2 separate regions of the Homo sapiens genome follow, and region 1 is linked to region 2. Evidence: fine-mapped expression QTL. Tissue or cell type: whole blood. Region 2 holds a variant in brackets; the other region holds the start of a gene. All regions are shown on one strand. Distances are between the middles of the regions. Region 1 holds the start of PAG1 (phosphoprotein membrane anchor with glycosphingolipid microdomains 1). Region 2 overlaps PAG1 (phosphoprotein membrane anchor with glycosphingolipid microdomains 1).

What was found.
Region 1: it holds the start of PAG1, and the variant in region 2 is fine-mapped to the expression of PAG1 in whole blood (TOPMed, PIP above 0.99).

Annotation. Positions count from the first base shown.
Region 1 is chr8:81,107,811-81,120,866 of GRCh38, forward strand. PAG1 (phosphoprotein membrane anchor with glycosphingolipid microdomains 1) reads right to left here and starts at 4,258. Exons shown (of 9, transcript NM_018440.4): 1 at 3,781-4,258. RefSeq lists an enhancer at 3,704-3,773 and a silencer at 4,264-4,393.
Region 2 is chr8:81,068,717-81,085,680 of GRCh38, forward strand. PAG1 (phosphoprotein membrane anchor with glycosphingolipid microdomains 1) reads right to left here. Exons shown (of 9, transcript NM_018440.4): 2 at 1,396-1,454. Among named protein-coding and RNA genes, the nearest start is that of PAG1, 35 kb to the right of the region's middle. The variant G/A (reference allele first, on the strand shown) is at 9,711.

The sequences.
Region 1 (13,056 bases), 37 kb after region 2:
CGGGGCTGCACATGAACTGCTTGCGTGTATAACTTGTATAACCTCCCAATGTGCCTCTCACAATGCATGAGGCAGGAGCTCTGGAACTATCAGCTCCCAACTCCTCAAGCCCAAAGTGAAGAAAATTCAAAACAGTACATATGACTGTCAATGGTCTTCATTCATTTATATCCATATTAAAATTAGTTTGCATTTCTTTTACATGTATCTTTTGATGGATGTCAGAAGAAAATTATTCAGAGATTTAAAAGTGACACAGATAAGCCACTAAATAGATAACAGATAACATAGATGAGAAATGAAACAACTATATGTATATTCTGAGGAGTTAGTTAATAATAAATCATGAACCTCATTCAAGTCACAAAAGTGATCAGGGGAGACTTTTACTATAGAATAACCAACCCAGAGCAGGGGAACACTTGAAATTAACTATTAAGTAAGCAAAAGGGAATATCTGTTCTCTGAAAAGGAGGGTTCAAGTTGAAACAGAAGATAATTCAGAGATGTGAGATGACTCAGTCAATGGCAGGGGCTCTTTTGGGCACTTTGCAACTATGGTATTGTGTCCCCAGGCACATGGAGGCAGCCTACAGGAAGAGTAGAACTCTCGAAGAGTTTTGATTTTTTTTTTAAAGCCAACTTTGAGCATTTATATTGAAGCACCATTCAGTGTTAGCATACATTAGCTAAGAGATTTCATTAAACATTAAATCAGTCTGTGATTTAAATTAAATCAGACTGTGAGCAGTCTGTGGTCTATGTGCCCTATACGGCAATTAGATTTTAATCTCTAGAAATAAGACTTACAAAAGGCGAGAACACTATCTAGTATTTGGGTGATAACCTAACACAGCCACAAAAATGCCATGACCTCTCAATCATTCCCCACCTCTGGAACCCAGCTGAGAAGTCTAACAAGCTATGGAAACCTTAAAGGAAGTACTGCTCACACAGCACCCCGGAATCTGCTTCCCATGACATGGGGTACTAAGGCTTGAAGGAAGCATGCTTATTTAATGGTAAGTATAAATTATTTCTTTTTCTGAACATGCAGTTTAATATGAGGCAAAGTGCAAGGCCTCTCTCTGCCCAAGGGAGTTCTCCAGCTGGGACTGAATGCATATCCAGGGATGACGCTGTTTGTGGATTGATTACTGCTGCCGTGGTGGTTTCCTTGACTGTGTAGATTGCTGCAGCTACACGTGCAGGCAGGAAACCAAATGGAGACCACCACCCTCCAGTGTAAACTCTAACATCACACCAATTTTTCTTTTTTGACTCTCTGAATGCATGAATAGAAAAATAATAAAGCAACAGAATCCACTTCAAATTGAAAGACCTGGCACCTCTACCACACATTAGGAGGTATGGAAGCATGGGCAAGTTATTTAACAATAATTATGATCATTTCTGTTGTGGGTGCTGTTAAGCACTTTGCATACTTTAATCCTTAAGCTTAGATTTCTTCATGTATAAATTGAGGATAATAATGCAACTACTTCATTTGCAAGTTGAGGCAGCAGGGTCAAAAAGAACACAGTTTCAACACAGACAGACGTGGGTTAAATGCCAGCTCCAATTTCTACTATTTGATCTCACTGAGCTCCCATTTTCTCATCTCTAAAGTAGAGATGAAGCCACTTACCTCAAAGGACTGTGGTGGGGAATTGAGCAAGACAGTGTTAAATACCAGTTGGTGTCTGTATCGCTAGACAGTGCACAATAAATGTTTATACCTTCTCTCCTATTATACACATGAACTGCTTCTGTTAATATTCATCAGCAGCAATTCAATGTCCATAGCAGCAATTCAATGTCCATAGAGTCCAAAGATGCATTTCCTTTCATAACAATGAAAATTTTTCCCAGAACAAGCTTAATATGCCAGATACTGGCCCAACAGCTCTATGTCTATGAACTCATTTAATTCTCACTACTGTTCAGTGGGGTAGGTACTACTACTGTCATCCCCATTGTACAGATGAAGACACTGAGGCACAGACTTTGGGTTACTTGCCTAGATTCAAACAGATGGTACCAGAGCTGGCAGCCTGGCTCCATAGCCTGTCCTCCTAACCAGGCTGCAATAGGGCTTAATGGGTCAATCTGTTTGAGATTCCATGCTTGGATGTAATCTCTTCTAGAGATAAGCACTGGATGCTCTCACAAACCGCAATGTGTTGATGTGACTAACTTTTCAACTTCTGAAATAACATTTTGTGTATTTTCTTAGTATTCCTAAAAAAAAACCCTTTACACTTTAAATAAGGTGCCTATAACTAGTTCATCTTGTTCTGCATGCTGAAATACCATAAATAAATGCACTTCTCTCTTCAAAGATTATGTAAATAAATCTTACATTAAAACATACCCCTGAGCTTTGGTTTAAACAATAATTTCAAGTCCAAATTAAACATTTATGTATGTGTATATATATTTAGCAGGAAAGTCTTAATATGACCTATTTTGTTAAACTAATGACATCTATACCCAATACTCCAAATATTCCTCTTATTTATAATATTCGCTGTGTAACAGTCACACAGCAGTACTGCATGGTACTTCAAAGTACTATTCCTTTTACAAGTTTAACCAACTCAGGTATTAAACATCAATGATGATAATCCATAGCTCTGCTTAAAAGGAATCTCTCGGGAACAGCTGAGAAAGAAAGGTTAAAGATTTCTATCCTTCAAAGTAGGGCACTGCAGCTACCTATAAATCATGCTCTTTGTTTATTAAGATAATTAGGCCCATCAGTACACTTAACTTTTAGACTCAACAATTGTCTGGCATGAACAATTTCCACTTTTTCTAAAACAAAGGGGATGTGTTCAAAAAGCGGTCCTCTGCATGCTCTCTGCACAATGCATGCTATTTTAAAACATGATTTATGGGTCTAATTCCTGGAGCTGCCTTGAAAAATATAGTGGGTTGTTCCTCCCATGCTCCCTATTAGGAGAAGACACTCCAATTTGAAGAGTGCACTCTGTTTCAGACTTCAGGCCGCTATATCATGTCAGCATTTTCAGTAAATACTGTTCAATTGGACTTTAAACAAATGGAATGGAGGGCCACAGCTGCAGCCACTGCAGAGATAAAGTTATCCAGCCGGGAGGCTTACATAAGAGGTGCAGGACAATCAGGGTGAAATCCAAGTGTCATTATCTGAATCCTATTTCTTGAGACTTGCCTACATTCTTAAAGTGTATGAATTCACACGCCCAGAGCTCGTTTTATTTGCCTTAGGGCATAAAACACCGGGTCGACATATAAGTTGTTTTTTCCCTAAAGGACTAGGCTCCAATTATGAAAAGGTTGGCAACTTCTGCCTAGGGGAAGAGTAAAGCGGGATGCGCGGGAAGCCTGCAGGCCTGAAAGAAATGGCTCGCCCAAAGATCCATCGCAGTGCTGGCCACACTCCCCAGAGGAATTAGGATGGAGGTGACAAGACCCTGCCCAGCCCCTTCACCCCAACGTAAACACAGAGTCAAGGAGCTTGGAATGAATAATTAGCACGCAGCAGTCGAAATGCCCTAGGAGTACCTGTCCTCTCCCAGCATATTTCCAACTGGCACATTCGTGAGATGCTGAGGTCAGCCAGCCCTGGACTCCAGACCTTCCAGCTGCCTTGTCCCCTTCTTGGCACCCCGCACTCCCTCCTCGAGCTGGAACTCTGTTAACAAGAGGTGCCACCCTCGGCTTCCCACAAGAAGATAAAAACGAACCTCTCCTTCCCACGGCTCCCTCCAACTTCAGAAACTACAGTCAACTTACTGGGACTCAGGAGGCAGGGAGTCTTCCTGGCGGACGGCGCTCGGAGGCAGCCTCTGCAAACTCCGGCGCGCAGCGCCGCCGCCCCGGCACAGCCCGGCAGCAGCGGCAAGTGCAGGACCAGGCGCCGCCGCTCTGCACCAGTCGCCTTGGCTCAGCTGTGCCGGGCGCCGGGCATTCGCCAGGGCACACGACTCAGCGAGGCGGCGGCTGGGACTGAGGCTACTGCACCCGGCCGCGCGGACCCGAGCGCTGCAGCTGCCTCCAGCCCCGGAGCGCGGCGCTCCGAGCCCCTGGTGGGTGTCTCTGGCTCCAAGGGAATCACGGCTCAATTAGGGACCTGCCAGGAGAAAAACCGATGCGCTGCCGCAGGCAGAGCCGCCAGCCCGCCCCCAGTCGGCTGGTCACATCGCGGGCGCGCAGACGGACAAGCGAGCGGGAGGGTACCGCAGCCAGCACTCGCCGCCGCGCCGCGGAGAATGACAGGCGCCGAGGCGGAGCAGCCGCGCGGGGAGCGGGGCGCGAGTGCGCATGATCCTGGCCGCAGCGGCACGTCACGGGGGAGGAGGGGCGGGCCGCGGGGCGGGAGGGGGCGAGCCGGGCGGGGCCGGGCTGGGGGTGCACACGGGTGAGGACCGGCGCGGGGCCTGGCTTGCTCGCGGGAGGATGCAGGAAGTCTTCCCTGCCCTGATTTTATGAACCCAAAGCTCTGTGGTTGAACTTGTCCCAGGAGCCCATTGTCCTTTAAACAGCACCGTTTAAGCGGTCCTTAAGGTCCCTGGGGAGCCCACAAAAGCCAATTTAATTCAGGTTACAGCTTAACCGTAAAGGGTTGCCATTTGGGGGACAGTGATCTTCTATTGTGGCTGTGCATTAAAATAACTTGGGGAGCTTGTAAGAACCCTTTGCCCCGGACGCATCCCAGAACAAGTACAGGACAATGTCTGGGTGGGGCCCACCCAGGTATCAGTAGGTATCTAAAGATACCAAGGTACAGCAGTGCTTCTCAAACCCTCAGTGTGTGACAGAATCTCCTGCGGATTGTGATGAGATGCAAGATTCAGATTCAGTAGGCCTGGGATAATGAGGGAGACATCCTTTCTAACAAGCTCTCGGAGGATGCCAATACTGGAGGTCCAGACCCCCATCCTTGCTACTTAACGTGTGATCTAGAGCCTGGAGCAGAGCTTCTGAAACAGTTGGCCTGTCTGACAGTCACCCGAGGGGCTTATAAAAAACGCAGAACAAATGCCCAGGCCGTACCCCCAGTGATAGTGGTTCTGGCTCAGCCCCTGGCAAAGGTGGGCTTCTAGAATTCCATTTGGCATCAACACTCTAAATAAATCTGATAGGGGTTTTGTTTGGGCCAAACTTCAAGTTTACACTAGCAACCTGGAATTGGGAATAAACTTTTGCACTTACAAGGAGACAAACCAAGTCTAGAACTCAGGACATCTGACTTTGAGTCAGGGATTCTAAACCAACGGGTGCTTTATCTGACTAGTCCCAATTTTCTAAAATTATGATGCATTACTTAGCAAGAAAAAACATATAAATGGCATTAAATATACACACACACACTCTATTGAACACTCGTTACACATATCATTAATGGGAGCTTAAAGGTGGCTGGGGAAGAAGGCTCATCAGGAGAGGGTAAGGAAGACAGTGATGGAGTAAGGGATGTTGTTAGTGTGTCGCAGAGGGAAGGGTATGTGGGAGGAAACAGTTTAGACTCAGCCTACAGCTTGGAAAAGCCCATTGGGGAAGCGGACCCAGGAACCAGACTTGGCCTCTTGCTTCAGAGCATGGTATGAAACTCAGGTGTTTAAGAACTTATGGAGTATAACATTTCACATACGTTACCTCACTGAAATTTCACAGTGGTCTCTTAAGTTGAATAATAATATAAAAAAGTATCCCCATTTTATATATTAAAGAAGACATCCTGGACATGAGTTGACTAATGGTGGAACTTGAATAAAAGTAGGGATCTCCGTGTTGGACTTGGCTTCTACAACTCTGGAGAAGAGGACAATTTAGACCTTATAAAGCAAATGGTTTCTGTGTTTACTAGTCACATCTTTTACAGGCTGTGCCTAAATTTGGAGTTAGGAAGGCTTTCATTCTTGTGGGGAGGAAATACATTTTGTGTCTTCCAGTTTTGCTACACTTGTTAGGATACACTTAGAACAAAATGTTCTAAGAGCAACCCGGTCCTAGGACATTGCAGTTCCACAGTGCAGGCTTCATTGAGGAGTTTGAAGGGCAATATTCACGTTATCTGGTGACAAGTGTAATTACCATCCTCATTTTACCCAGGCTCAGAAGCTAAGTGATTTAGACAAATTCACGAATGCAGGCAGGAGCCAATCTCTAGCCTCTGTCCTTTTCCTCTGCTCTCTTTTCACCAAGTAACATGCTGAGGATTGTTTTTCATTTCCAAATTTTTCATATCAGGATTTGCCATCAGTAAATTGGAACTCAAATGTATTTCAAAGCCACTCCTAGATAGAGAACCAAAAGTGTCAGGATCAATTCTTGTGCTTGTGGTAGATGCTATGGGCTATACTCTCGGTCTGAGTAATGTTTTGGAAGCAAGTATGTGATAGTTATATACAGTCTTCTAATCCAGAGGTTTGACTGGGAATGCTACACTGCCAACTGTGGTCTACCTGCCTTTATCTTTACTTCTTATCTAACTCTTCCATTACAGCCATTCTTCGGTGTGATTATGAAATTAATTCCTAAGAAAAAAGAATTCTTTGAAGGAGCTGGTACATCACAGGTTGTAAAACTTACTTCAGTTTTTAATAAGAAATATATATATATTTTAAATATGAAGGTAGCAGAATAGTCATGTTGGGACCTTTAGAAGAACCCAAAGTTGTCATTGTTTTCTTAGGTGCCCGACATTTCAATCAAAATATTTACATAATTCATTTGTATATTGATTTCAAGAGATCCAAGATTTAATTAAATAAAAAGTTACTATTAATTGGTGTGTCCTACTGCTATTGAATTTTGAACCATTGTTATTGGCATTAAATACATGAAATATATAATATTGTCTTGATACTATATTGACTGTGCTTTAATATTGACTGTGTCTTGATATTGACTGTGTCTGTATTTAGAATTTATTTCACATCAGCTGCTATTGATTGTCTGGCAGAAATCGCAGCTACATCTTTTTCTCTGAGGTCTGTATTCCTTATGGGTCAGCAAGGCCTACTCTTTGGCTGAGAATTCCTTCCTTCAATGCCTCTAAAAGTCCTAGTAGTGAGATATTCAATTATATAGACACTAATGACTCCACTGAAACTATTCTTCCCTCATGCAGAAACTGTACCTAGGATAGATTTTTATTAAAGTCTTTCTGCTAAAAATCACAGGCTTACCAACTGAGCTGGAAAGCTTAGGCTCAAAAATTCTCCACCTTTATTAATTACATTTCTTCATCCATTTCACTCAAAGGGATTCTTTGACATGAAAATCTTCACTTACTTCATAGACACAGTCCAGATAAGAGAACTGTGGGGAGTCCAAGGTGACTAGCAAGAGTGAGACAGTTGGGAGGAAGGAATTAGATGCCACTTGGTGAAAAATAAGCTTGCCATAAAAATTAATACAAGTTGTGCTTGATTTGTGGACATGGCTTATTACAAAGTTTGCCTTGTTTGAACACATGCAGCAGCTGATAACTTCACTGGAAACCATCACTGAATCCCTGGTGTAGATGGGATTGGGGGAGATTAGGGTCCTGTCTTCTTTCCCGAGAAACTTTAGAAAAGTATTAGAAAGCCCAATTCTTGCCCTAATGCAGGAAACTTACGACGTGCCTGCATTGTAAATGTTCATGTCTAAGTTATCTCACTTACAATTTAGAGCAGTCAATATAATAAATAATCAGGATTTTCAGGCTAGCTCCATAATGTTTTTTAAGTCTCTATTAACAACAAAAAAAGCTAATAGAGTGTTAATTATAACCCTGAACCTGAGAAGAAATAGGTGATGGGTAGGGATGTTGGGCTAAGGCAGGAATGGGGTCGGGGGCTGGGACAGGATGGAATTTAGGGATGGAAGAAGGAAGGCAGGAAGTGGCCTTTGGTTGCTGAGGAGCAAAGGCTGGTGGAGACTGAGTATCAGCAGCTTCTGAGATAAGACTGGGCAATGGCCTGTGAGCAAGATTAGAGAGCAAGCAATCAAGACTCTGCTGGCAACTCACAGCTTACCTGAACTTAAAGTGCTGAGGATTCCACGTGTGACTTTGTCTATAGGAAAGAGGGATCAGAGGTTAAGAAATAGATTATAAATTCCTTAAAACCCATGATAGATGCTTTAAAGAACTACTACAAAATATACCCTCAATTTCAATCTCTAAGAGTTACTTTTTCCTCCCTCCCAACCAAATTGCCCACTAATAAAAGGAGAGAGCAGCTGGGGGAGAGGCCATGCTGCACAGTGCGAACCTCACAGGCTGTCTGGCCCCCACTCCCAGCATCTCCATCCATCAGCTGTAATCACGTGACTGCCATCTTTGATTACCTAATACACAGTAACAAGAGCTTCAAGCACATATTAGGTTCCGAATATGCTAGCTATTAGTGGTGGGCTTTACAAAATCTCTCCTAGAGTTAAAATCTGAAACTAGACATCTCTTAGTGTCTATTTTATCATTTTAATGTAAACCATGATGAACTGTAGTTTTTAAGAGAGTACTTTCCTTCTCCATCAGAAGACTTAAGAGTGACTTTAGGGCTCCTCTGAGGACAGGAGAATCGTGTAGAAAAGGCTTTCAAGGGAGATCAGGGCAAAACCTACTAATGTAGCTCTGCAGCCTCACACTATACTGTAGAGGAAAAGTCAAGGCTTAAGGACTTGACATTTTCATATCTTTCTACCGGGAGAAAGAAATTATGGTGGCAAGAGACAGTAGCTATAAAAGTGAAAATAGAGTGCTTTAAAGAAATGCCTTTATATTACAGATTTGAGAATGGACATTTCCATTGTCCTTTGTCATCCTGACCTTACACATTCCTTAAAGTTCTATCCTGACATCAACACTCAAGATGTGTGCCTGTAAAACTGATGTAGATACTCAGAATGTTGGTAGAGATTCCTTAAGCTCACTTTTAATTCTTCTGCCTTTATCACTTCAATATAATACAATTTTTATAAACATATTTTAAGCAGGCATCAGAGAAAACTGCGTGTTTCCTTAGTAGCCAACCAGTTGCCTGCCAGCAAGCAAAACTTCAGCATTGAGAAAGGAAGATTTTGAAATTCAATTCCAAAAGAAGTGAGTTGTGCCATCTCCAACATTAGAAATATGTGAAAGACTTATAGTGGCTAAAGCATTTCTGTCATTTCTTGCCTTTATACATCTTCCTCCAGTCCCGCCCTCTCAACACCTTTTCAGCAAATAGACTTTTCTGCTCTCAGTCTTGTACTCTCCCTAAAATGGAAGCTGTCTCTTGTTATATAGCTACAACAGATGACAGGAAGAGGAAATTCAGCAGAAAGTGGCTTTCTCTGTGAGCCACAAGCCCATTAAAAGTGGAAGATTATTCTTTGTTTACATGGCTTTCTTCTTCAGTTTGCATAAGGTTCCTTATCTGAAAAATGGGGATAATAGTATCAGAAAATAGTATCAGTATCCACAAAATAACATAATTATTTTCTGAAAGAATCAGCCATTTACCTATTCCTACTTCCCTCTGAAGAGCATTCAGTTTCTGCTGAATTCTCTTCTTTTGTTCTCTACTCCCAAAGAAGAGAACACCTTCTAGAGAGGGTTGATGGTCAATGCTAGTGAGTGCTAGTGAGAATGCAGGCTCCCCAGAGTTTTCATACACTTGGCAATGGTCAAACCTGTGGTTCTGAACAGGTAACAAAAACTGGTGCTTGAGATGTTACTTGTGTGGCTGGTGGTCAGACCCTCAGCAGAGTCTGAAACAAATTCTTTGGGGGATGAATAAAAGCACAATTGCAGTCTGATAAAAAGTCAAGGGACCCTGGAGATTTCACAGCAATTCAGAGAGAAAAAAGAATTTCCAGAGGTAAAAGCCATAAAATAAGCGATCACTCCAAAAGGTCTTGTAAAAACAGCAGTTGCTTTTAGAAATATTTAATCCCAAATTCCACTGAAGTGCACGTGGTATTTCCTGTTTCTGAAAACTTAGAGGAAAATTAAACTCTTCTTTGAAAAAAAGCAAGCAGAGCCAGATGTTGGCGTTGGTAATGATCTGCAGAGCCTAACACACATGTGGCGGCAGTCAGGGAAATGCATGACAGCTGTCTGAAGCCATGGGAACCTGATTTCTCTTGGCTAGAAAAGAAACAAAGAGTAAGGGTTGTTTTGTTTATATATACAAGGGGACAGCTGAGTCCAACAGACATTATTTTGAGCTGTAGAGCCAGAAACAGCAGTTTAAAATATTTTATCTTTCCCTTTGACACACTCAGTCCAAATAATTTATTCAAGGAATGTTCAGTATCCAATCAGATACAGTGACATTCTAAAGTATTTTTTTCAGAAAATGCTAGACTATACCGTTTTGAGCCCAATTATAGGCAATCTCATAGTAGCTTGCTTTGTTCATATTAATAATCAGAATTTTTTTCTGAAAATACATGACTGGACTTCTTGATTAAAAGAGCCTTTGGGTATACAGGAATGATTACCATCGGCTTTATCTTTCACTACACCCCATCCTGAATCTTCTTCTCTGGTCAAACTGTTTTACTATTCCAAGATTCATTTCCCTTTGTCCTTTCTTGCTTTTGTTTTACTGCTGTTTTTTTATTCAAATCCTCCTCTCCCATCTCTGTCCTTCAAAATACTGCCCATTCAGGTGCCTAATTCATACCTCACCACATCTGTGAAGTTGATCTTGATCATCCTAGCTGGAAGAGTGTCTCCTCCTGGGAACATCTGTAACACCTACTGTCTGGATCATCCACATGGCACTTCTCCTAAACTGCTTTGAATTAAGGACATCAGTGTATGTATTGCTGTTCAATGAAACAGCAAGCTCCCAAAGGCAGGCATTAAGTTTTAAACTTCTTTGTATCTTCTCTCCTTCTCCCGCTCCTTAACTCTCTAGTTATTTTGTACGTGATCACAAGGGTTCTATTCATGTCCATGCTTATGACGTTGATTGTGAGCATGTTGACTGGAGAGAGAGGTGTAGGTTTGTGGAGGAAGACAGATAACTAACATCCAAAGAGTGATTCAGCACCTAATCCCATTTGGATTGCAGCATTGGGCAGATTATCAAAGCTTATCTAGTTATATATTAAATACTTATTGCATCTGAGTTACAGGGTGAAGGCTTGATCCCAAGAACAAAAATTGAATTCTAATTACTACAATAGAAGCATGAGGTGTGAACCAGATTATTTATATTAATATTTAATTTATATTGAATTCTGGGCTATGGATTCTTCAGTATCCACCTCCCACTGACAAGGGACAGGATTGAACCTGGAGCCTGGAGAAAGACTGAGTCTATTGTTGGAGGAAAGGTGATCATCTATGAAAGCAGAGATGATAGGGGAGCAGAAAGCCAGGCAGGACATTTTTCTTCCTACAATGCCTTTCATAGCAGGTTGTTTGACATGAGAAGTGTCATGTCAGTCATTGTGTTTACCCATCTCTGTGCCACTAGCTTCCTCTGAAATATGGACTAGAGAATATGGAATGGACTGAACAGTCTAGGGAGGAAAATGGGACAGATACACAGGGAGAGGCAGAGATCCAATGGAAGACAGACAGAGCATTCCAGCCAACGTAATGCTTTTCCAGACCCTTCATATCCTTAAGTAAATTTTCCTTTTCATTGCCTGATCCTTGTAAGACAAAAAAATCTAACATACTGCTCAATGAATGTTTATAGAACAAATGACTAGAAATGAGGTGTTAATATTATTAAGAATTGATAAAGCAATATTCATATTCATTTGTGATAAAATAAAGAACATATCTGGCTTTTGTCTCTGGTTCCTAGCAGAGTTTCAAAACTCCTAGTATTTCCAGAGTGATAAGAATGTCTTTTGTTATTCATAATTAACCTCCTTGGACTGTACCTGAGTTTGTGATAATGAATGGGGGAAACCAACCATGTGATTAGAAGGTTGGAACTTTCAGACCCTGCCCCCAACCTTTGGAGAAGGAGTGAGACTGGAGATTAAGTTCAATCACAGGGCCAATTATTTAATCAGTTATACCTACACAATAAAATTCTGACAAAAAATTCAGGACATGGAGATTTAGGAAGCTTCCTGTTTGGTGAAGATGTTGCTGTACTGGGAGGGTGATGTGTCCTCCTGGCTCCACAGAGACAGAAGCTCCTGCACTCAGTGCCTTTCTAGACCTTGTTATCTGTATCACTTCATCTGGCTGCTCATTTGTATCCTTTCTAATAAAACAGTAATCATAAGGATAGTGCTTTCCCAAATTCCATGAGTTCTTCTAGTGAATTATTGAAACTGAAGAGGGGTCATAGGAAAATCCCCAAAATTGTAGCCATGTCAGACAGAATTGCAGGTAGTTTGGGGACCCTGCTTGTAACTGGTGTCTGAACTAAGAATAGTCTCATTAGGAACCTTGCTCTTTAACTTGTGGGAGCTGACTCTCACTCCGGGTAGTTAGTGTCAGAATTGAATTGAATCGTAGGACATCTAGTTGGTGTGAGCGACTTGATGTTGGAACACAAGATTACATTCTTTGTGCATTTAAAAATACACCATGTTTTTGTGACATCTATTTACAGTGTTGATTAACACAGAGCAGAAATGGCATCAACATCTCAAGATGAAGAAGAGAGCAATTATATCAGGTGACTATGTCCGTATCAGTCAATCTGCACATGTAGGTTGATGGTCAATGTACTAATCAACAAATTTCAATATATGTACCCCTTCTTTCCTGCTGGACTGCAGGCTTCTGGGAGTCAAGCTTACATATCCTACGTCTTTTTTTTTTTGTGATGGAGTCTCGCTCTGTCGCCCAGGCTGCAGTGCAGTGGCACGATCTCTGCTCACTGCAGGCTCCGCCCCTCGGGTTTACACCATTCTCCTGCCTCAGCCTCCCGAGTAGCTGGGACTACAGGGGCCTGCCACCTCGCCCAGCTAATTTTTTTTGTATTTTTAGTAGAGACAGGGTTTCACCGTGTTAGCCAAGATGGTCTCGATCTCCTGACCTCGTGATCTGCCCACCTTGGCCTCCCACAGTGCTGGGATTACAGGCGTGAGCCACCGCACCCGGCCTCCTAC
Region 2 (16,964 bases):
GACCTCAAGCTTAGCTTCTATAGGAGGGTCAGATGGAGTAAAACTCAAGAAGTCAGCCATGTACAAAAAAGTACCACACAACGCTTTCCAGAAATTGGGAGGAATGTGATTCTATTACAGAAACATGTGATGCCTATTCTAAAGTATATAGATTCTTGAGTTAAATCTTCATTACCCCCAACCGGAAAATGCTCTACATTTCAGGCCATAATGTGTGTAAGGCGAGCAGCTCTAGTGGAAATGGAAATGCATTAGAGAAAATGTCTAATCCCTGAATCGAGATTCTTGTCAAATATTAGGAGATCAGAGGAAGGCGTTTTTAGAATGTGGATAATCAAAGGTCTTAATGCACTGATTCTTTAGCCTAAGTTAACTAACAAAAGGCAGGCTGATTTCCAGGATCTGCAGTTATATTTAGAAAGACTGTGGCCTCAGAGGGGAACCAAAATAACCCTGAAATAGCTCCCTGCTCTCCTAAGAGGAAAGGGTTACTCTGGCAAGAGAAGGAATTTCTCAGTAAGTTGAAGCAAAGATTTAATTAAAAGACAGTGGCCTATTTTACAAGATTCCTTTGGTGAAGAGATTGGGAAAACTTAGACCAGATGAATTCCTTTCCAGGCCATACAGGCATTGGATAATGATTTAAAATGAATATGAGTCGGGCAGGCCATAACACTTGAGGTTTGTAAAATAAATCTTTCAAATGGGTGGACATAGTGCTTCGAAGTCCAGGATTCATTATAAACACTGATAACCATTGTAGTAAATGAATTTCTAAAATAAAAGACAGAATGTCTTTGTGTTAACCTGTTCATTTAGTCTGAATGATTTTTCCACATTTGGTCTGTTCGCAGAAGATGACCCAAGGTTATTAAGGAATTATTAACATAACTTTATCATCAGCACAAAATGAGATTATTAATACCATGAATAATGATAACCAAAAACACAGCCTCGTATATTTTTGGTGGTGGTGGCAGTGAGCACTGTGTATCCTATTAATCTCTCTATCAAGCCCATGAGACTATCCAATTATTATCCCTGTCTCAAAGATGAGGAAAGAGATTGAGACAGAGTAGGCATTTAGCCCAACTTCACAGAGGCTTTACAAAGCTCAGCCATGGATGGGCTTACCACCAATCAAAGGGAAACACCATGTTGTAGGAAGTATACCCATTGGCGTCTTGGTTTCTATCGCAGAAGACCTAAGTTGCTAAATTCAAATCAGACAAGCTCATTCCCTGGATGTTTTTCAGCTTAGAAGCTGTGTGTCTGCAGACTTAACCCAAACAGAGTCTCCAAATCAACAACTGATGCATGCAAAGTTAAACTAAAAGCCAGTTTGAATGAGTAATAATGTAGAATAAACCAGATAAATAAATACTTTGAAATCACCTTTTCCCAGCAATGAAGTTGTGGCCAACTGCTGAAATAGGAGAAAAATCTCGTGTTTTCTGGAAAAGAAACACAAGAGAAAACAATTTCAAAATTCTGAACTGGATTAAAACTGCAACAATTAAGAGTAAAATGATCATCTTGTTATTTACTTATTTAACATTTGGCCAACAGTAAGCAACTGAAAAAGGCTTATTTAATTAGCTTTTACTGCTTTAATACTATAATAAAAGAATGTTAAAAAGCAAAAGCTAAAACCTGCTCTTAAAACATCCAGACCTAAACATTATCCCTAATTTTATACATGTAGAAAAGTAAAAATGATGGCATTAATTGCATGTAGTAATAAATTATGTCCATACTTCGTTTTAATCATTGCTGCCTTCTAACTCAATCCCACCAATGATAACAGTAACTAGGAGTTATCACCAGCACTGCACCTGCACACCTCAAACACAGACCCCTAGAGCCCATGTGCAATGCACATGGATTAAGCAAAAACAAAATTGGTTGTATGCCTCAAGAAGATGAAAGTCTTTTCAGCACAAAAAAAAAAAGGTGAAACAAAATTGTATAGAGACGTGATAATTGTTATATTTAGCTATATTATTTAATGTCTTCATCTTTAAATATGCTGTATTTTTGTTAACATGGCTTCTTATGCTTAAAAATAAAACTATCACTTATAAAGATCACTTCTCCAAGAATAAGTGTGATTTGAGTTTGAGGAATGTAATCTCAAATCGAAAATTCTGTTTTTGTAGAACTGTGCATCTAAGTAGACATCTGAAAATATGCTAAGTGGAAGTAAAAAGCATGGGTAGTTAAAGAATGAACCTGATAACGAGACTGAATTTTCTCAGGAGAAATATCCACTGGGGGAAACTGGTGCCTCCTCTCCCCTCTTTTCTTTTTTGGTAAAGTTTAAAAGAGAAAAGAAAGAGCTATTTCTTTTCTTTTTTGGTAAAGTTTAAAAGAGAAAAGAAAGAGCTATTTCTTAGAAGAAATGAAAAGCAAAGTAACATTTGAAAGACCAAATAGTCAAGCTGACAATAAGCAAGGTGGTAATTCCTCCATGAGCTCCAGTGTCAGACTCCACAGTGGCCAGCAAGACATGAACACCCAGACTCTTAACCCATGTGGTCTAAGAGCCGCCTGAATATGAGTACCAAGAGAAAAGTGCAGTAGAAGGTGAGAGAAGGTTCCATGCCAAGAGAGGCAGTAGAATGGTAAAGAACCCACTTGCCAAGAGTCCACACACAACGAAGAAAGGCAATGGAAACTCTCTTCTCTTGGCCTTTTGCTGGGAAATCCCACATCCTGGGCTACTAAGCATTATGGCTCAACAACACTGTGGGTGCTGGGAAATTTCCCCACCAGTCTGAAAACCTATCATTTATAAAACCAGGAGGATGCATTTCAAGCTCTAAACAATTGCATTGGGAACAAGTATTTGGGAATAGTACTTGTTCAAAAGTGGAGAAACAATTATTTTGAGAGGCTGCTAGTGGTGTCTAAAACACCACCAAATCTGTTTAATAAACACTTACTGATAAATCTCTGTGCTATATACAAGGGGCACACAAAGGCAAAGATGACAAGGCCCAGTTCAGGAGCCCAAGTTACAAGTAAGTAGCACAATACAGAGAGACGCAAGGGATAAGAGGAGTATGAACAGGTTGTGAATACAGTACAGAAAAGAACAGGATAGTTTGGCTCTGGAGGGCCCCATCCGTGCTTGTTCTCCACAGCCCTTGTGACAAAACCCAAGCCCCTGGCATTGTGACAATTTCCCCATCACAGTGCCCAGCCTGTCCAGTGTCATCTCATCATGCTCACTGCCCTCCTGAGTCCTCCGTGCTTCTGCCACCCTATCTGCTTTAGAGGCTTAACCAGTATAGAAGAGAGAACAGACCAGCGGCACAGGGGCCCACTGAGATGTGTGCTCCTTCAGCTACACTCACCAGCGTAGGTGAAGATGTGGCGTGGGGAGAGAGCTGGGTTATGCAGGGTTGGGGTTCTGCTAGTGAGTATATCTAATAAAGCACTTGTTTTTAAGCTGGAAACTGTAGTGTGCTTGTAAAGAGTCAGTGAATCCTGGCACCTGATAGGTGGGTCCCCCAACTTGTTCCAACCTCCTGTCCCACTGTGTCCTCAGCCAGTCACATCCTTCTCAATTCTCTCCTTCATTTATTTAGAGTCCAATGAGGAAATAACTATAAACACCAATGTAAAATACATGCTCTAAAACAGGGCTTTCAACCCTGGCCTTGCTGACATTTGGGGCTGGAGAATTCTTTGTTTTGAGGGGCTAGCATTTCCTGCCCTGAGTTGTAATAAACAAAAATGTCTCCAGACTTCAACAAATATCCCCTTAGGAGCAAAATCATCCCCATGTTGAAAATCACTGGTCTAAAATGAATGATGACTTATTAAAACACAATAATTTGAGCATAGTGGCTCACACCTATAATCCCAGCTACTTAGGAGGCTGAGGTGAGAGGATTGCTTGAGCCCAGGATTTTGAGGCTGCAGTGATCTATGTTGTGCCACTACACTCCAGCCTGGGCGACAGAGTGAGGGCATCTCTTAAACACAAACACATACTCACATACTCTCATATTTATATCTTAACTTTCATATCATGCAGAAAAACAGTAGTGTGGATGGGGACCATTGGAAAGGGCATAGATGAGGGAGTGGGTGCATGTAAAAAGCACCTGTTGTATTCTCAGCCCTGCATGAGGTCAGTTATCTCATCCAATACGCACAAAACACCCTGTGCTTTTCCCTCTGCATCACAGCTGCTCAAAACCTTGAGAGACAATGATTTAGTGCATGCTGACAATGTTATTAAAAGCAGAACTCCTCAAAATAAAATAAGAAGTATTGCTAGATATGCCTTTCCTTCACTTTCAGTAGACTGAACGCCTGACTCCTTGAGAATGACCAGCACAACATATTTTCATGGCAATCAACTTCATTCTGTGCCATCTTAGGACATTTCCACTGCCAACTTGTCCTGTGGTTGTTTTCATCAGGATTGGCCCACATGGAGTCCTAGGCATAGCCATGATATATCTCTTTTCCTCAAACCACAGCGAATTAGGCATATTTAGCCTGCAGATTTGTAAAATAGAACTGGTTACAGCTCTGCTAGTGTCCCAAGTGAGTATGACAATGCTACGGAGTGCAGAGCAGTGTCGGGTGGTTAAATCCTGACTCACACTACCAACCTCCCTGAGAGCATCAAATGAGACAAGCGACAGGATTCTCAGATGGAATTTGATGTTGGTCCTTTCCCCTCCTGATCCCCAAAGGGCCTGGTGGGCTCAACAATCTCTAGTAAATTCAGCATATTCAGGTCCAAAAGTATCCCTGAACAGGGATCTTCCTTAGCCTTGTCTATTCAAAAAGACCGGGAGTGGCTTTTTAAATACATGTGTGGATATGCAGTTCTTCCTAGTTGGCTTTTTCTGATTCTGTCCAAACACAATCACATCTCCCATGCTAGTATCTATCCAAATACTTTCTTTAAGGAGAATGTCCATATGTCAGCCACTATTCTAGGTGGGGGTTTCGATATTGACCAAGATGAAATTCCCTGTCCTATGTATCTTTCTAGTGGAGGTGGGGAACAAACCCACCATCTAGCAGCATAGCTGTGACAATCACTGAAGAAAACCACAGAGGCACTGTGGAGGTAGGGACTGCCTGGGGAGTGGGCGCTGCTTTGAGTTGGGGAGTCAGGAAAGGCAGCACTGAGAAAATGTTAGCTGAGCACAGACCTGAAGGTGGGGGGGAGGCAGGTCAGAGGGGGCTGGTTCCACTGGCCCCTCCATGTGCCCACCTTGGGCACCCCTCAGAGAGCTACAGCATGCCTGGTGCTTCCACACCCACTGAGGGGAGCACTGGCCAGGTGTGGGCACACGTGCAGACATGTGGGCAGATCCAGGAAAGGCAGCAAGATTATTAGCTGAGAATGAGGATGGAGAGGGAGGTATTTGAGGTTTGAGGACAGGACACAAGAAGATGATCCAGAAAAGCAGAACAATGGACAGAATAGCGGCACAGGGACCCACTGAGACGAAAGTGGGACCTGTGAGCACAGTGATGTGTGTTCCTTCAGCCGCACTCACCAGTGTAGGTGAAGATGTGGCGTGGGGAGAGAGCTGTGTTACGCAGGGTTGGGGTTTTGCCAGTGAGGATCATGAGGGAAGAGGGAGCAGCAAAGAACCTGAGGGTGGATGCAAAAGAATAATTATAACACAAGATCATGGAATCTAAGCTAGATAACTAGGAAAGGAGAACTGGAGGGGGTGACAGACAAGGAAAATTAGCAGGATCACTGGATGGTGAGTACTGGTGGGCCACAAATGGTTGGAGTTAAGGCACAGGGGATAGAAGACAGAAGGTGGTGATCAGAGGATGAAATGGTTGAGGAGAGAGTGGATTAGACACTTGCTACTTAAAGTATGGTCCCAGACCAGCAGTTTCTGCAGTATCTGGGGACTTGCTGAAAATGGCAGAATCTCAGACCCTACCTCAGATCTACTGAATCAGACTCTGCATTCTAATAAGACCCCCAGGTGATTCACACTAAATTTGGGGAAAAACAGCCTTAAACCACTGTCACATCTGCACCATGCTGGCTCAATTTGCAGGCAACCAGAAGCCACAGACACCCTATAAAAAAGGGTGAGTGAATAGCATTCTGAGGTTAGGAAATTCCCTGGGGCTCTGTTTCCCCTTCAAACAGCTCCACTTTAAGTCGCTCATTTTGGTTTCTTGGGTTTCTATCCAGCTGCCTCATGCTCTTGTTCTGCCAGGCCTTGCAGTCTTATGATATGGTTAGCAGGCTTAAAATTCAATTTCCCAAAGAACGCTGCCCCTCCAAATGCTGGTTAGCCTTCCCTCACTGTCTGTAGGCAAAGAGCATCTCCTTACTTCCTGCAACCAGGTACCTATCTCCACTCTCGTTTGCCAGAGAGAAGGCAACCAGATACTTAGTGTCCTCAATTCAGCCTGTGTAATTCCATGTGTCCATATAGATCTATTCCAAGACCCTAATGCAAAATGTATAGTATTGCCATTTGTGGCTTTTTAGAAGTTTAGCTTCCTGCTATATAATAGTCAGGGTTTTGTATCTTCTAGTATGAGTAGACTGACTTGCCTCTTTATAATTTTATAAAAAAGAGAAAACAGTTGTGTATGACATTAGCATGAAAGATGAGGTTGAGTCTAGTTAATGGAGGCTTTGCCTCCTTAAAAGCTTTATTCATAATAAAATGAGTGTGACATTTTCATGAACCCAGACACTACCTCCTGTACAAACACTTGCATGTGAAATAATTAAGAATCTCTAACTTCTTTAAAGACAAGTAATTTCAGATGCTGTCGTGTATGAGTTTTACTATGATTACTAATAATCAAGTACTATTTGCAGACACCATGCTATACATTCCATATATCCTCATCTTACTTAATGCTCACAAGGATTCATACTATTGTTACACTGATCCTACAGATGGGGAAACTGAGGCCTAGAAATGTGAAGTGACACAGCCAGTGAGTGGTGGAGCCAAGTTTCAAACCCAAGTGCACCTGATTCCACAGCAGCTCCTCACGCACACACACAAGATAACACACAGCTGAAGCCCAAGAGCGTGGCACACACAGCTCCCTCCGCTTTCCCGCATCTCTGAGCATACACATAGTCACTACTAAATATTATATGTGCCTACTTGAGTTGAGAAGGTGTAAACAAGGGTCTCTAATCTCACTGTTGGTAAATATCTGATACAGAGACCCTTGCTTAGATGTGACCATTTTCTAGATCTGTGATAATTCTTGTAGCTCTTGCTAAGTTACAATAATCAATGAAATGAGCCATCCTGACATCACTCTGCTAACCTGTGATACAGTTATAACAAACTGGCTTATCACTACAGGTACCTGAACACAATCTCTGTTGGTTGGTGACCTGGCCTCCGGGAACAGAACCTGTTCTGCTTTCAAGAGAAAATGCCAGCAATGACTTCTTATCTGATCCTTTCCCACACCAAGGCAGATCAAGTCCTTAGGTCAGTTCAGCAAATGCAAATGTGTACAGAAGAAACAGAATCAAATCCAAAGCTTCCCATGTGAATTATCACAAGGCTTTGGACATACCAGTTTCCTTCTTGGTATCACCTAACAGCCCATGATTCAGAGATAACAATGTCTAGCTCTGCCTCCTTTGCTTCCCAAGGATGATGTGAGGGTGACTAGATGGGCCTGAGGTCCTTGGGTAGGAGGAGCTGACGCTAATTTAATAAGCCTATGTACACACACAGTGCTGAGAAGCACAAAGTCAAGCCAAGGCACCTGCATATGGTAATTAGGGTTAGGCATTCAGGGCTGATAAAATATTTCTTTTTAAGTCAGTGAGGCCAAAACAAAGCAAACAACAACATTAAAAGTAGCCTCAGAAACTGACCTTCCCATTTCCAACCCCTATCTGCAAAACAGAAAGAGAAATCTCTTACTTTCATGTAAAAATTATAGGGCAACTTCTTTGGTTTCTCAGATTTTGAAAGGAAGACAAGCTGTAAGAAAATAAATATCCTAGGGCCCATGCTAAGTACATACTTTTTAAAAAATTTTAATGTGTTCTATATCTGGATGAACATTTATTACTCAATATTTATTACTGCCTCAATATTTATTACTGTCTCTATACATATTTCTCTGTCTTAGGTTGTCAAGTCTGATAAGGCAAAGACCAAATATACTTTTGTAAAGCATGGGAAGCTGTTATGCATAATTAGGCACTTAAAGAGTTTTTGATGAAGATGATTATGAAGAATGAGAATGGTTAATACCATGGTAGGCATGTTTCATGAAACCTTCCTGTCTTTTCTAAAATGTCAGCTGACTGCACGTTCATAGAATCGTAGAGTTAATGGAAGCTTGAGCTTAGAAATCGTGCAGAGCTTGCTAAACAGTGTGTGATCTGCAGACCAGCAGCATTGGCACCCCCCAGGAGCTCGTTAGAAAGGCAAACCCTGGGCCTCACTCCAGATCTACTGAGTCAGAATCTGCACATTTAACAGGATGTACATTAAAGTCTAAGAGGCACCAACTAGAGAACCATTAAGTTCAACTGCTTCATTTTACAGCTGAGAAAGTTTGGGACCCAGACAGCCTAAGTGATTTGTAAGCCCTTCCACATCCTGACCTGGGATTTGTTGCTCTCTATTCCAACCTTCTACAGCCTCTTCTACTTCAGGAGTACTCCTCCTTGCATTTCTCTTCTGTGGGCCTACAGGAACAAAACTGTAAATAAATAACAACCCACAGATTGCAGGGAACACTGCAATAATGGTAATATTTGTTTGCCTCAGTCTTTATTCTTTTCCTCACTCACATTTGAATACCAATTGTCACCCTCCTAACATATGGTGACTTTTATCGAAAAAACATTAATTTCTTCAGGTGTAAAGAGAATGGCTGTACTTTTGTCCACAACTAAGTTTTTTTTTCGCATTTAGAAATCTGAAAGGAATTTGTTGGATATAAAAGAAAAATGCTGTCTTGAAGAAGATATGCCTTAAAAACAGCAGAGATTAATCAAATCAATAATGCAAGATGTGGAGTAAAGGTTTGAAAATAATATGTAAATTTTGCTGAAAGCAAAATGTTTAGATTGGTTAGAGACAAGGACAGACTGACCTGTGTTCCATCATTTCCTAAATAAACCCTGGGAGAGACCACCCTATCAAAGAGAGCCAGAAGGGAACAGGCTTACTTAAAAGCACTCTCCTTTCCCTCAAGGCATGGTCTTCATAAGAGAACATCATCCCATCATTTGGGATCAAACCCACGTAAATGAAATAGATCAATAAAAATCCATAAACCCAAAAATATTATTTCCGACATGGCCATTGTTATAAATGTACACAGCAAATGTCTTGAGGTACAGAAGTAGGAAAATACACAGAAGGTGTCTGCTACTTTATCTCCTTCAGTGCCAGAGTTTCTGGGTTTGAAGTACTTAGTTGTATGTGACTTCATATACTTGTTTATTGAGGTTAAGTGGGCTTAAATTTTTAATCTGTTTAGTAAAATCAACTGCAAAAGTATTAAAACCTATTACTAAAGACATTTTGTAGACAAATATCTAAAAAGAATTGAGGTCAATCAATTTCATTGTAATTTGAAGGTTTTTCTTCTCTATCCCTTAGTTAAGTAGGAATAAGAACTAAGTCCTTCTTCACCAGGGCAAAATACCTTCCTAACATATTATAAGTCATGAACAGATGTACTTAGAAAAT[G/A]AGAAGATTTGAGTTTAGCACACAGACTGAATCTGAAAAATCATCTAAGGTTGGAAACAAGTTCTCCAAAGAGACACATCTATGTTTCTTTGGAAAAGAGACACATTTTCTTTGGAGAAAACACACATTGACAAGGGTCTCAAATGCAGGCAATCCTTCATCCTTGCTTATTATTCCTTTATCCTTCCTTATTTTCCCTAAATTTCTTCTTAGTCTCCTGACTCCATACACTAAGGGACAGGCTATTTAGATGACACTGTAGGTACCGAATAAAAAGAGCAATTGACAAAAGAAAAATTGTCCAGTGCAGAGATGCTGCTACTTACTGGCTGTTTACACGATGAGGTAAATACTATTATTATTCCCATTTTACACATGAGGAAACTGAAGCATTCAGAGATAACTTATTTGCTCAAGCTTACACAATAGTATGACAGAGTGAGGCAGAAACTAAAAACGCACAATCTGGTTCCAGAGTACAGGCGCTTTATTCAATATTTATTTCATTTTTCACCCCTTCACCCACTTCCTTATCTTCCATCTTGCCTGCAAATGCTAGAGTTTCACCTACAGTGGAATTATAAGCTAAGAAGTCACTGATCTCCTGCTCTGGTGATATCCTTGCCAGGACTCAACCTTTGCAGGCCTCCCCTTCCAGTAACAATAACATAGATTAGCAACCAGAGGTCAGACAGAAAGAGTCTACAGATTCCATCCCAAGCAGCCTTTCCACTCCTTGATTTCCCCCCCTTACTTCCTATCAGCTCAAACACTAATTTCTGCATTGATATAGGAGCCAAACAAGTAGCCACTTCTTCAGGAATCACATGCCCAGCCTGGAAGGTCATCCCAACACCACTCACGCAAACAAGGCAGCCTCCAGTCATCTACTCCTCGACTGGAAAAAAACAAAAACAAAAACACTTCTGACTGTAATATAATTTGCAGGACTATTATCCTCAGACAATATTGAATTACTTAGGAGTTCAGCATCAAACATAATCATTTCACTTCTGGATGTCTACTCTGTAACGAGAATGTGCTAGGCATTACAAAGGCGATCAACAGGAATAACTTATTAACCCTTCCCTCATGGCAAATTCCCCTTCCGTGAAATTCTTTACTTCCATTTCCTACTTGGTCAACTATTTCAGACTGAGCATATGAGACTCAGGAGAGACACTCAGAGTTGGGCCCCTTAAGAGAAAGACCAATAGGGGTGGAGGGGCCTTGAATTGTAGAACTGAAAATACTTCAGTAGAAAGCCAGACACAGAAGAAATACTTATTATTATTATTATTATGCGTATCGCATGCCATGAAGCAAAATCAATTTATTTCATTTATTTATTTATTTTTTTGAGACAGGGTCTCGCTCTGTTGCTCAGGCTGGAGTACAGTGGCACGACCATGGCTCACTATAGCCTCAACCTCCCAGATTCAAGTGATTCTCCCACCTCAGCCTCCTGAGTAGCTGGGACTAAAGGCACATACCCCCATGCCCGGATAATTTTTAAAATTTTTTGTAGAGGTTGAGTTTTGCCATCTTGCCCAGGCTTGTCTCAAACTCCTGGGCTCAAGTGATCCTCCCATCAAGGCCTCCCAAAGTGCTGGGATTACAGGCATGAGCCACTGCACCTGGCACAAAATCAATTTATAAGCACCTCATTGAATCTCCGCAAAACTACTAGAAAGTCTTTACAAAGGAATGTTAAAGCAATTGTAATGACGAACACAGTGACTGCGCAATACTCATAATTTTCTAATTTAAGAAGTATTGAAGGAGATATATTCTAGTTCATGTATGCCTATTTCGTTTTAGTGACTAGCCTTCGTAGATGGACTAGTGATTTCAGCACCTTCAATTCTATGGGGGTCTTAAGTTTAACAACTGCAAATCCACTAATAATGGAGATTTTCAGAAATAGAACTTTAAGTAGTTTATAATCAGGAAGAATACAACCACCCAAATTATTAAGATAAAAGGTAAAACATAAAAGCCATGATTTGGTAGCTAGGTGGGTAGAGGCATTTCCTCTACTGTAAGAAAAACAACAGTGTTGCACAATAAAAACCAGCTGATGGTTGGTTGTGGTCTCTGGGTAAGTAGTGGTAAGGACTGAGGCAAACAACCTCATCTAAAGAGGCTGTAAGAGGCAGTCCCTAAACATCCTATATCTAACTCCTTTGAGAGAATTTGAGAATGTACACCCAGTGTTGGCAGATTTTCTTATTTTTCCTGAGAAGCTAGAAGCCTGGATTTTTACATATCTCACAATGTTTAAATATATACTGCTAATGTAAATTTAAAAAGAATAATCTACTGCCCAGCACTAAGTGAGCAAACAAAATATGCTTGAGGATCAGGTCTGAGGGCCATTTGGAATATGGCTTCTCCCAGGTGGGAGTAGGATGGGATTTTGATAGGAAAAGTCTTGAATTTCAGTCTCACAGCTATGACTCTGTGACCTAGGAAAAGTGCTTAAAACTTCTGAGGTGAGTGTCCTGCTGCGGAAAGATACTTGGATACTAATAGCCTATGCAGATAGGCCAAAGAGTATAGTCAGTAAGAAAGGATGCAGGCTTTGGGACCAGACTGTCCAGTCCAAATGTGGCCTCACTACTCATCAGGGCAAATCATTCCACCTCCCTGCGTCTCAGTGTTCTTCTTTACAATAATGCTGACCTCACACGGTGTTTAGGAGTTAACAAATATTATCTATTTTTTAACATATATGATTGATAAAACAGAATCCCTTGCCTTCCTTCCCAATCTCCAAACAAATTAAAAAAAAAAACAGACTTTAGAAGAGGCAACTTCGTACTAACATCTTTCTGAACTTGGACATGCAAAGTTCTTTATATATGATATAGCATTGTGTTTTCAAATTGATGTAGCTACAAGAAATTTTTAAAAGTTATTTTTTAAATTAAATTTTAAAATTTTAGATAGTTATAGATTCACAAGCAGTTACTTATAATAAAGAGGGATCTCATGTACCCACTGCTCAGTTTCCCTCACTGGTAACTTCTTGCAACACTATATTACAACATTACAACTAAGGTAAACACACTGATAGAAGGAAGATATAGAACATTTCCATCACCAAGTATTACTCATGTTGCCCTTCTGTAGCCCCACCCACTTCCCTCCTGTCCCTACCACATCCTTAACTCCTAGCAATCGTGAATCTCATCTCTATTTGTACGACTTTATCATTTAAAGAATGTTATATAAATGGAGTCATGTTACATGTAGCCATTTGGGATTGGGCTTATTCACACAGCATGGCTCTCTGGAGATGCACACTAGCTGCTGCATATATCAATAGCTCCTTTGTTTTATTGTGGAGTAGTATTCCACGATATGGATGTACCGGTTTGTTCAGCCACTCATCCATTAAAGGATATTTGGGTTATTTCCAGTTTTGACTATTACAAATAAGGTTGCTATAAGCATTAATACACAGGTTTTTGTGAGAATGTGACTTTATTTCTCTGGGATTAAATGCTGAGGAGTGATATTGCTGTATCTCAAAATCCTTGGCCGGGTATGGTGGCTCACGCCTGTAATCCCAGCACTTTGGGAGGCCGAGGCAGGCAGAACACCTGAGGTCAGGAGTTCAAGACCAGCCTGGCCAACACAGCGAAACCCCATCTCTACTAAAAATACAAAAATCAGCCAGGCATGGTGGCACACACCTGTAGTCCCAGCTACTCGGGAGGCTGAGGCATGAGAATTACTTGAACCTAGCAGGCAGAGGTTGCAGTGAGCCGAGACTGTGCCACTGTGCTCCAGCCTGGGCAACAGAGTGAGACTCTGTCTCAAAAAAAAAAAAAAAAAAAAAGAAAAGAAAAAAAAATCCTGAAATTAATTACCTCTGCAAAATCCCTTTTACTACATTAAAAAATAAAAAGAAAAAAGGAACCTGATTCCCTAGTTCTGGGAATCAAGACATGAACATCATTGGCGGGGGAGCCATTATTTGGCCTACTACACTCAACTCCTTGTATCTGTAGGTTTCAGTCTTCTGTTAAATGTGGCAAGTCTTCAGCTATGATTGCTCAAGTACTTTTCCAGCCCCTCCCTCTTCCTATGCTTCTTATGGGTCTCTAATGACACAAATGGTAAATGTCAAGTGTAGTTCCACAGGTCCTTGAGGCTCTCTATTCTATTTTCTCTCTAGTGTTGAGACAAAATAATTTTGATGGTTCTCTCTTTACTGATTCTTTCCCCTGTCCCCTGCATTCTGTTGTCCAGCCCATCCACTGAGATTTTTATTTGGGTTACTGTATTTTTCTGTTCTAAGATGCCCCCTAGGTTCTTCATTATATTTCTTATTTATTTCCTGAGGTTTCTATTTTTTCATTTGCATCCAGCATGTTTAGAATTCCTCAGTGATGCATTTTTATGATGGCTGTTTTAAAATCCTTAGCAGACAATTCTAACATCCCTGTCATTTTGGTGCTGGCCTCTGTTGACTGCTTTTTTTTTTCTTCATTCAGTGTGAGATCTTCCTGGTTTTTGGTATCACAAGTGATTTTTTTTTTCATTGAAACCTGGACATTTTGGGTATTATGTTATGAGACTTTGGATCTTACTTAAACTTTCTATTTTAGTTGCCTTCCTCTGTTACCACTCCCAGAAGGGAATGGGGAGACTGTGTTATTATTGCTGGTTCATCCTGATTACTGGGGTAGAATCAGGTTCCCTACTACACCTCCCCTGATACCTGAGGGGGATGCATTCTTACTGCTAGTTAGGAGTGGGAGTTTTGGCTCTCCATCGGGCCTCCAACAATACTTCCTGGCTGGGAGAAACAGTGTTTCTGGTTCCCACATGATGTCCACTAACACCACCCCAGTTGGAGAGGAAAAGGGCTCCTCATTACTGTTAGGAGTTGGGGAGGGTAGAAACCCAGGTTCCGCATATGGTTTCTACTTACATGGGGTTGAGGTGGAGGCTCTTGTTACTACGCAGCAGAAATAAAAGCCTTGGCTCCCTACTCAGTTTTCTGTGACACTACCCAGTGGCGAGGGCTGGGGTGCCTTGGGACACCCCAGCTCTCAATTTAGAGCTGGCAAGGGTGGAAGTTTAGGCTTCCCTATCAGCTTTTGCTGGTAGGGTGAGGCCACATTTTTTTTTCTGTGGGGCTTGGCTAGAGTACAACAGTTATTATCTAAAAGTTTTCCATTTTGCTAGGCTCTACCTTTTCTAGTCCTCTGGTTTCAGAAAACAGATTTTCATCTTTTACTTATTTGTTTTTGTATGTGCCTGTTGGTGTTTTCCACTTGCTGCCTTCTTCATCAGGAATATATGGGATCTCAGTCAGGTGTGGTGGCTTACACCTATGATCCCAGCACTTTGGGAGGCTGAGGCGGGTAGATCACTTGAGGTCAGGAGTTCAAGATCAGCCTGGCCAACATGGTGAAACCCCATCTCTACTGAAAATATAAAAATTAGCCAGGCGTGGTGGTGCATGCCTGTAATCCCAGCTACTTGGGAGGCCGAGGCAGGAGAATCACTTGAACCTGGGAGGTGGAGGTTGTAGTGAGCCAAGATGGCACCACTGCACTCCAGCATGGGCAACAGAGCGAGACTCCATCTTAGAAAAAAAAAAAAGGGAATATGTGAGCTCTGGGAAATACGACTCAAAAAGAAGAAAAGCCAGGTAACTCACTATTGTGTGTTGCTTGGGTTTTGAGGTCTATAGATATTCTGCCATCTTTCCTCTACCTTTCAGAGTCTTCTTACGTTTGTTTTATGAACAATGTCTAGGAATTTTAGTTGTACTTAGTGGGAAGAACAGGGAAAAGTATGTCTACTCCATGTTCCTGGAAATAGAACAAATTTTTCATTTCATTTTGAGGTTAAAAATTAGAAACCTCATTAAGTAAGGACATTGCATTTGCTATGCTGAAAAGGCTGCATCCAATAGTAGCAAAAGTTTACATAAAATCAATTTAAATACTTTCAAAATACTTTAAGAAAAACTTCAAAACCATGTATTTAACCCTTAAGAAAATCAATTTTAAAATAATATATTTTAAAGTTCTCAAAAGGTACCCAAATGATGTTAGTTAACTTTTTGTTTCAATATATTTCAAGAAAATGAAAGGAAGGGACTTTTTCTATGTGGGTGTCATTTTGCAATTATTACCCTTAATACGAGAGGTTTTTAGTTTTCTTCCTACTTTGGTAATTATTTGAAGGCTTCTTTCTTTCCTAAGCTGTCTATAAGAAGTGGCTACACAGGTCTTACGTAAGATTATATTTATATTATCTCAAAAATTTTCTTCCCAATGGCTTTTTATGGGATTTAAGAGAACTGGATGTACATTATGAGTGTCAGTCACGATATTAGAGCAGACAAGTGCCAAAAATTACATCTATTTTCCTTTAACCAACCCTTTATTATAAGCAAAATGTACAGAGTGGCAAAAACACAGTGAAAAGTAATGGAAATCTATGTGAAATACATTAAGATGAAGTCCGTTTTCTTTTTTTACAGTTCAACATGAAAGGTTACTGTTAAGAAATTTGAGAGAAAGTATCAGAGTCAAATAAGATACAATGAAGGGCAAGAAATGTATAAATACAAATACTCTTCAAATTGATGAACGCACTTTAAAACAATCTAGGAGTAGCTCTGAGTTAAGATGGTTGTTGGGCCTTTACTTGGAATAGTTCTTAGAAAAATCAGGGCTCTGATTTTATGCTCCATGTGCCAATTAGAAGCAAATGGCGATTCCTCCGGCTAGACTCTAAATTCATCACATTATTGCTTCATATAGCCATTTTCTCTTCCTTCGTTGAACAGAAGGAAACTGCATGGTACAGTAGTCAGTGAAATGTAAAATAAGGATTAACAAGCCATTCTGGAGATTTAGCAAAATGAAGCTTCATCAACCAGCTTGACTCACAGCCAATCCAGCAAAAAGCACCCTAGAAAGAAAACTAAACAGTGAAGTGACAAGTAGCACAAAAAATTAAATAACTCAGGCATTAAAATCATGAAAAGGTGCATTGTGTTCTGTGATCAACCAAGCCCATTCCTAGAATAACAAGAGTCCATCCTGTACTCAACATGCAAGTCCAAAACAGCCCACTGGCCTACCGTGAAATGTGCTTAGGAAAGAAAATAGTACATTACCCTACCTATGTCCACAGAAGTAAATTTACCAACAGAGAGGAATAGAGGAATATATAGGATTTTGTGAGGACTTATTTTCCCTTTATGTGAAAAGGACACAT